Linked DNA regions of Homo sapiens: region 1 is linked to region 2. Evidence: fine-mapped expression QTL. A gene starts in region 2. The other region holds a variant in brackets. All regions are shown on one strand. Distances are from middle to middle.

Region 1 (4,390 bases), 35 kb after region 2:
GTTGTTACATAATGATTCAGACAATTTGGAGGGAGATTGGGAAATATCTGCTAAAATTAAAGTTTTAGATTCTTTGACAAAGCCATTTCATTGCTCTGTATCAATTCTAGAGAAACATTCACATCTGTACAGAGTCATGTGTATAAAAACATTTGTGGCCACATTATTGTAATAATAAAATCTTAGAAATAACCTTAGTGTCTGTGAGTAGGGTAATTATTAAATAATATGGCACATGCATATTATAGAAAATAAACAGACAGAATGAGTTTTCTCCATTTATACCAATATGGAAAACTCTCTAAGATATGTTAAGTGAATAAAGCCATTTTAGAACAGTACATACAATAAATTCCATTTGTGTGAAAAATTAAAACATAAAAATATTATAATTTCACAAGTACACATGTGCATGTAAATATGTATGTAAAAATTCGAAGGGATACACACATATAATTCACCCTGGAGAGGAAAATGAGAAGTGGCAAACGGGGATTTCAGCATTATTTGCAGTACTTGAATTATTTATAAACAGAATGTATACACATATTACTTGTACAAAAGGTAAAAACTTCTATATGTAGAAATAAAATTAAATGATTGATCTAATAGGGAGATAATTACCTATAAACTGAATAAAGAAAACTCATCACCCAGGATACCAACACAAGAAGCATTGGTGGCTATTTTTGCATAAAAGATGAAAGAAAGCAGCCATAAAAAAGTTTATGTTCTTCCCCCAAGGAAAAGAATGGCAATCAATGACAAGTCACAGCTGCATAGACGCAGCCCCATCTATGTGCTGACTCAGGAGGTAACGCAGTGCTTCCTCTCTTTGATTACCAGGGGTCTTGACTTCTGTACTAAAGTAAGAGAGAAAAATAATCTCTAAAAAACAGTTTTAATAAATATCACCTTTGCTGAGGGTAGGAAAACGACACTAATTTCACTGACAGACAGATTATCTCACACCACTGGCTTTTCAGAAAAATTGTGAAGCATGTCTGTAAGACAGCCCTTTAAAAAGACAATACTCTATGAAGTATTTTAAACACTGTTAACTAGAATTTTCTTTGTTAGTTTATGTCCCGGCATTCATAATTATGAGTTGCACATGATAAGCAAACAAAAGCCACTACCATTCAACTGATAGCATCATTTTCTCAACAGTTACTGGTTGTTCTGAGAATACTGACAGGCCCCTGACAAGTTTACTGGGTGAAAGAGTGCTAATTCCTGCATTAATAAGGAGAGACTTTTGTCATTAATAAGTCTTTGAAGTAGAAAAAAAAAAACCCAAATTGGTTAAGAGGCATGATCCTAATCCCAAAGCCACAAAAGAATGAGAAAGCTTCAGAGGGATAAGCCTACAATCTCTGCCTAGATCAATCAGGCTAGACTAGACTATGCTACCATAACAAACATCCCCCAAATCTCAGTGGCTTCAAACAATAAAAATCTCTTTATTGCTAATACTACACGTCCATCGTAAGTCAGCAAGGAGGTCCTGTACATCACAGTCACTCAGGAACTCATACTAACAGAGCAACTGCCATTCAGAAAGTTGCCACTCCCACCATGCAGATAGAAAGACAGAGAATTCTGGAGGATCTTGCACTGGTAATAAAATGTTCTGGCCCAGAAGTGACACACATCACTTCTGATCATTGGCCAGAGCTAGGTATATGGGCCCACTTAATCAAAGGATGCAAGAAAGTGCAATTCTGCCATGTGCCCAGAAGAGAGAAGAGCTATAAATAGTTGGCAAACAACATTAATAACTCACATTAGCCTGGCCCAGGGGCATCAGAGACATCTATATTGAGGATCCCAGGCCAACACCAAGTTGAAGCACAGGTCTGGAGAGAACCTGGAGGCCTCAGGTTGGCTTAACCAAGAAGTAGAAAAAACTCATCCTGCCCAAGAATCTTAACATAAGTGGAAAAATCCAGTAATGTCTAGTTTAGAATAATCTGTGCATGTAGGTGATGCTGGGATGTTTCTCCAAATTCCTCACAAATGATTCATGATCAGTAATTTTCAAAGCTAGCTGGTCATCAGAATCACTGGGGATGCTTTAGAAACTAG[G/A]AATGTCCAAGATCAACAAACCAGCAGGAAAAAAAAAAAAAAAGAAAGAAAAAAAGAGATGTCTGAGTCTTATTCCTAAGAATTTTAATTCAATATACAGTTGGAATAGGTCCCAAGAATCTACATACTTAATCCTCTGTAGTAAAATAAAAAGGCTTATTTGGTCCTTGTCCCCCATTTCTGGCACTGAGCTTCTAATACCCTTGGAATTTTCTGACTGTTAGAAGTGTTAGGGATGTCTCGTTATTCATAACAAGCTCTTTTCAAACATATCTGAGTCTATACTAATGAGGTGACTCAGGGTGGGCCTGAGATAGCTTCTCATGGGTTCCAGGGGGATCAGCCATGTGAGTGGAGGGTTGAAACTTTGAGCTACACAGTTCCACTCTTGAACCTCTCGGGAGGGGAGTGGAGCTGGAAATTGAGTCAAATTACAAATGGCCAATAATTTAATCAATTATGCCCTTGTAACAGAATCTCCATTAAAAAAAAAAACACCCTAAAAGATGGGGCTCAGAGAGCTTCCAAACTGGCAAACACATCCCCAAAGGCTCTTGCACTTGGGACCCTCCCAAACCTTGTGCTATGTACCTTTTCACCTAGCTGTTCATTTGTATCCTTTATAATCAACTTCAATAGTAAATATAGCATTTTTCTGAGTTCTGTGAATTGTTCTAACAAATTATCAAAACTTGGGCCAGGAGAAGCTATGAGAACCCCCAAGTTTGTGGCCAATTTGGTAACTTTGGGGGCTTGATACTTGTGACTGGCTCCTGAAGTGAGAGCAGTCTTGTGGGTCTGAGACCTTAACCCTGTGTTGCCTGACACTCACTCCAGGCAGTTAGTGTCAAAATTGAATTAATAGATGAGTCAGAGAATTCGTTGAGTAGAGGACACCTCTTACTTCACACCCCAGGGATTCTCATGATCATTAGGTTTGGTGACTTCTGCTGAAGACATTGAGTCATCCAGCCGTCCTTATGCAGGGTGATTTACCAGCATGTCCAACCTCACAGAGCGCTGAGACTACTGAGTGACCAGGAGACTCACAGGGAACCACTGAGCTCCAGCAAAATAGAGTGAAAGAAACACTGGCTGAGAGTCAGAAAGCCCACAACTCGGTCCTTGTTCTGGTTACCTAGTGTTGTGTAGAAAACCATCCCGGCCGGGCGCGGTGGCTCACGCCTGTAATTCCAGCACTTTAGGAGGCCGAGGCGGGCGGATCACAAGGTCAGGAGATCGAGACCATGCTGGGTAACACGGTGAAACCCCGTCTCTACTAAAAATACAAAAAATTAGCCGGGCGTGGTGGTGGGCGCCTGTAGTCCCAGCTACTCAGGAGGCTGAGGCAGGAGAATGGCGTGAATCCGGGAGGCGGAGGTTGCAGTGAGCCGAGGTTGCGCCACTGCACTCCAGCCTGGGCGACAGTGAGACTCCGTCTCAAAAAACCAAACCAAACCAAACAAAAAAACCATCCCAAAACTCAGTGGCTTCACATAGCAACAAACATCTAGTTTGCTCATTAATCTGCATTTTGGGGAGAACTCTGAGCAGACGGCTGTTCTTGTTCCATGTATTTCCAACAAGGAAGTCTTGAATGGAGCTGGAGGATCCACTTCCTAGTTAGCTCCAAAATGCTGACTGTCGGCAGAGGCTGCTGACCAGGGACCCTAACTCCTTCCCACATGTGTCTCTGGGGCTGCTGAAGCTTCCTCGCAGTATGGCATTTGGGTTCCGAGAGTCCAGATTCCCAGAGCAGGAAGTGGAAGCCGCTGGTCCCGTAAGGCCTGAGGCCATAAACTGGCACAGTGTCACTTAGGCAGGCCAAGCAATTACAGAACCTGTCCAGAATCGGGGTGGGGTGGGGCGAAGTGGTGCGGGAGGGATGTAGTTCCCACCACTAAATGGGAGAAATGTCAAGGCATTTTCGGTCACCTTGTTTGTTTTCCAGTCACCTTTCCCAGCCTCCTCGCCCCTCCCCCCAGTTATTATATTTTACTTTTCCCCTTCCCACCCCTGCCCTTTGCATCCAACAGGGGGCGGCAGCGGCGGTGAGGAAGACACGAGTCCCAGGGAGTCCTAGGAGCGCGCAGTGGGTGGGGCTGGACAGCGAGTTCCACTTCCATGCCGCCTGCGTGGGCCTCGCGCCTACAGATGGCCAACCTGCTGTACCACAGCCAGCACCACATCAAGATTTGGTTCCAGAACCGGCGCATGAAGTACAAGTAGGATTATGGGCCAAGGAGATGGCCTCGTTGTGGGGGGCCCCTCTCCCTGGCAGAGCAAGCCGTCCACGCCGACT
Region 2 (4,390 bases):
GGCAATATAGCCGCATGACCTGCTGTGGATTTGGCAACAGAATTCTGGCACTGGAATGGAGGGAAAGACTGGGACAGAGACTGGTATAATCAGCCAAACTAGAGCAGATAAAAGGATGAGAGCTGGAAATAATGGCACTCTTCATGAAGTGAAACATTAAACCTGGGCTTCTCAACCTCAGCACTATTAACATTTTAGGCTAGATAATTCTTAAATCTTGGAAGCGGAGTGGGGGAGGGGGGAGATGTCTTGTGCAATACAGGATGTGGCAGCATCCCTGGCCTCTACCCACCAGATGAATAAGATCCTCTTCTACTTACATGATGACAGCCAAATATGTCTCCAGACATTGCTGGATGTCACTTGGGAAGTAAAATCAAAATTCCGTTGAAAACCATTACTTTAAGCCCTAGCATCCCTGCTTTACAGATGAGGAAATCCAGCTACAGAAAGGTACAGGAAGGCCCCAGCCAGGATTCAAGCTGGTGGTCTCACTCCAGGGCCCGGGCTCTTAGCCACTGCGCTTGACTGCCTTTATGGAAAGGAGATTCAAGCCAGCCTTCTGAACAGTATTACACATTTCGTGACAGACTGGATGACAAGAAGGGGATGAATTAATAAGATTCAAAGGTGAAACCTCAGTGCTTGCCGCTGAACTCAGAGGACAGTAGATAATAAGTAGTTTGGGTTTGAATATAATCAAGGTATATTAGGTCAAAACGGAAAAAGCCTGGTCCCTTGTACTATGAGAAAGGAGGTGGGGGGGGGGCGGGGGAGTTGGGGGGACGGTTCTTGCTCAGACTAAAAAGAAGAATCTTCTGTAGGGCTGGACTTGAAGTGTATGTGTGGTATAGACCAGCTAGGACCCAAATCCTGGCTGGGCCCTTTCCTAGCTAGCTGTGTGGCCCCATCTCATTTTGCCCGTTTGTAAAATAGGGGTAAGAGTCCCTACACACAGGCTTGTTATGAGAACTCAGGCAGTTAATAAGAACAACATGGCAAGCCAGCACGATGTGGTTGGCACTCCTCTCCTTCCAGGACATCCTCATTTCCTCCATGTCCCAACGCGCTCCGTACTGCGTGCCAACACCTCCCCTTACCCCTCAATAGTAGGGGTGGGGACCCCCACGCAGACCTCCCAGATAGAGCAGCGTGGACTGTCTGCGCGCCCCTCTCCAAAAGCAAAGCGTCCCACTGGGACTTTAGGGGGCGCCAACAGCCTTTCACTCCCTGATGCACTCGGCTTTCGGGGTCCTGGGGGTCGCCAAATGCGCGCGGCGAGTTGGCTGCCTCCGAAACAAACCAGGTAAATAGTCCACGGTGCAGCACGTACATTTCTGGCAGGTCCGCCCCGCGCAGGCTTGGGATAGAAGCCAGTCAGGCTCAGCCCAGCTCCCAGAGGCACAGGAGAGAAGCGCTAGATTTGGGAACGACCTGCTTTCCGAAGCTGGGCTGCAGAGGCAGGGAGTTGAGAGTTGTTCTATCCAGAAAGAAGCAGGGGGGGCGAGAGAAGAAACAGGAAAGTGGGAGGAAGAGGAGGCAAAAAAGAAAGCGCTGGGAAGCAGAGTTCCCTGTGGGACCCAGCCTACAACACCTGGGCAGGGACTTGGGAACAAAGCAGCTGCTTCAGGTCAGAAGTGCTCTGGGTGTTTCCGAAAAGAGGGCGCTTCGGAGAAGCCGGAGCCCGCTGGGGATGCCGGGCGCCCCCAGAGTTCAGGGAGCGCTCTCGGGCACCTCTTACCTTTGCTGGGGCCCCGGCGCGCACTTCCGGGGACTGCGCTTGGGGCGCGCGGGGCCGAGCAGGGGGACCCGGAGCTGATCACTGAGGGGCGGACACGACAAAGCGCTGCCCGGGTCTTGGGCCGGCACCAGTACCTCGGAAAGGAATCCCGGCGGAGGGGCCGCCGGGGTCAGGGCTGGCCTGGGGATGTGGGGTCCCGGCCTGGGTGCTCACGGACGGCGGCGCCAAGCCCCGCAGAAGCTGCAGGAGCCCGAGTCAGTGGGAGGAAAAGGTTGTCTCATTTCCTTCGATCTCCCCCCTCCTCCACCCGCTTGGCTCCGGACCTGCCCTCCCTCTCCCCCGCCCCCTTCTGCAAGCCAGCGGCCCATGTGGGCGCCCGCAAGACGCGAAACCTGAACGGCTGCGGCGTGCGGCACCTCCCTCCGCGCCAAGTTAGTTCACGCTCCCAACTCCTGCCTGCCTCCCCGCGCTGCCGACTGTCCGCAGGACCGGGGAGGTTCCCCATCGGCAGTCCCCAACCTATCCCGGTCCTCCAGGCTTTCCCCCTGCTGGGACGAGCCCAGATTTGAAAGCAGACCTCCAAGCCCCTGCCAGCATCCATCCTCTCATTCCTGTCCCGTCGCCTGCTTTGAGCCTGTATTCAGCTACTCAACTCAGACAGGAAATAACCACTTACTTTGTTAAATTTGATCAACTTTTTTTTTTTTTTTTTTCTGAGTGGGAAGTTAAAGCCTGATGCATAATCTCGAAGGAATGTTCATTTTTATCGGAAGAAATGCAGCTGAGGCCTCTGTTTGGCCTTTCTCTTTCAGGGTTGGGGTTTTGTTTGTTAAAATCAACAAGTATTTTATTGAGAGTGATGGGCGCTCAGCTGGGGGCTGGAAACGCAGAAACAACTAGAGGGACACCCTGTTCCTATACAATCGTCATAGGGGAAGAGTGCAGGGAGAGAACAGGTCCCGGGTTGCGGTGGTCTCTTAAGAGATGGGTCACGGAGTGAAAGAGCCTTCTACAGAATCAAAATAAAAGCTTGGACAGAGGGAAGACGGAATAAGAAAGCCTTCAGGAGGCGGTCTAGCAAAGAGCACAGCCAGGGCAGTGAGTGATGGTGGGGAACAGGGAGGAAAATATTGTGCCAGTCCGTTAGGAAAGGAGAGGAGCTCCTAGAAGCAGTGTGATGGAACTGACAAGATCTGATGACCAAGGGCTTGAAAGGGAGAAGATGAGGAGAGGATGAAGGAGAGAGGTGACTCCCAGGCCTCTGGCTAGAGTAGCCAGTGACCACGTGGATGACTAGAATCCCAGAGTGCCTTCTGGAGCTGCTACTCCAAGTGTGGTCCAGAGACTGGCAGTACTAACACCACATGGAAGCTTTATGGAAATGAAAACCCTCGGGCCGCACTTGAACCACTGGATTAGTATCTGCAGCTTAACAAGATCCCTAGATGATTCAAATGTGCATTAGAATTTGGAAGCACTGGCTGCTAGACCACTGACTGTATATTATGCTGTATATTGGACTGATTGTATATTAGACTATGGAGCCCTGGGTGTCTATTAGAAACACCTGGGGAGCTTTAAAAACCAATAGGTGGCCCCAGCTCCACCCTCACAAATATTTCTGTAATTGTCTGGGGTGGAGCTCCCACATCAGTTTTTTTTCAGATGCTCTCAAGATGATCTCATACAGCCAGAGATGAGAGCCACTGTTTCAGACTTACTCAAGAGCTACTTCATTTTACCTTGAAATGCTGCTCTTCAAAAGGAAAACAACACCTATCTGTAGATGAAAACGTAAAGACAGGTTATTCCACTCTCATGCAGAGGCAACTGGTCTGGTAGAAAGGGCCCTTGTTTCCTAAACTAATCAGGGAACAAGGTTCTAGCCTCAGACAGCACTAAATTACTCTCTGAACTTGAGAAAGTACTCCCCTCTCCGACCTCTGTTTCCTTATCTGTAAAAAGAATACATACTTGCCTGACTCCAAATTCCACACTCTGGCATGCAAGGGCCATCATCAGAGCTCCCCCTAACTCTCCAGCTTTCCAGCAGGCATATGGAGAGGCTGTGATGAGAAGCGGGGTTTCCTGATGTAATACTACGTGTGTTAGCCAAGGGCACAGCCCTGTACGAATATCAGAGATCAGAGGTTTGTGTGCCGAGTACAGGAGCACACATACAATCAGTGCTCAGTAAATGTGTGTTGAATGAACTAATTAGTAAAGAAATAAATAGATAGGGCACAGGTGCCAATAGGTGAGCACAGACTTTCTATAGATGGGCCCTAATCTTGAGCCTACTTATTTGCCCCCAGGCTGGAGAAAGGACACCTGGAAGCACTCTGACCCAATCTACCTTTGGATTTAAAAATACTACCACTACTAAGAACTGCTAATATGTGTTGGTACTTAGTACGTGCCAGTCACTGGGCTGTGTCTCACTTATAAACATTGCCTCATTTTATTAAAATGAAGCAGATACTGTTGAACCCCCTACACTTCAACAGATTTCAGGAATCACAGGTATGGAGAGACTAGAGCTGCCATCTAGATTATCTACTTCTGGTTGTGCAGCAGGACAGAAGTGCATCCGTTGCTAGCCTGAGAGCCCCTCTTGGGGTTCCTACGGGTCATTCTCCAGAACATGCA

Which allele goes with the higher level. Alleles are on the strand shown, and positions count from the first base shown. SD is a standard deviation of normalised expression in the study named.
For the expression in fibroblasts of the gene that starts at base 2,001 in region 2, G is the high allele of the variant in region 1 and A is the other (small effect, 0.26 SD a copy in GTEx).

The links. PIP is the estimated chance that this variant, and not a neighbour inherited with it, causes the effect. A credible set is the group of variants that fine-mapping cannot tell apart.
Region 1: its variant is the best candidate, but not a certain one, in a credible set for the expression of EVA1A in fibroblasts (GTEx, PIP 0.84).

The regions. Positions count from the first base shown.
Region 1 is chr2:75,593,948-75,598,337 of GRCh38, forward strand. No RefSeq gene overlaps it. Among named protein-coding and RNA genes, the nearest start is that of EVA1A, 35 kb to the left of the region's middle. The variant G/A (reference allele first, on the strand shown) is at 2,089.
Region 2 is chr2:75,558,939-75,563,328 of GRCh38, forward strand. It overlaps EVA1A (eva-1 homolog A, regulator of programmed cell death), which reads right to left and starts at 2,001. Exons shown (of 4, transcript NM_001135032.2): 1 at 1,742-2,001. RefSeq lists a silencer at 1,951-2,010.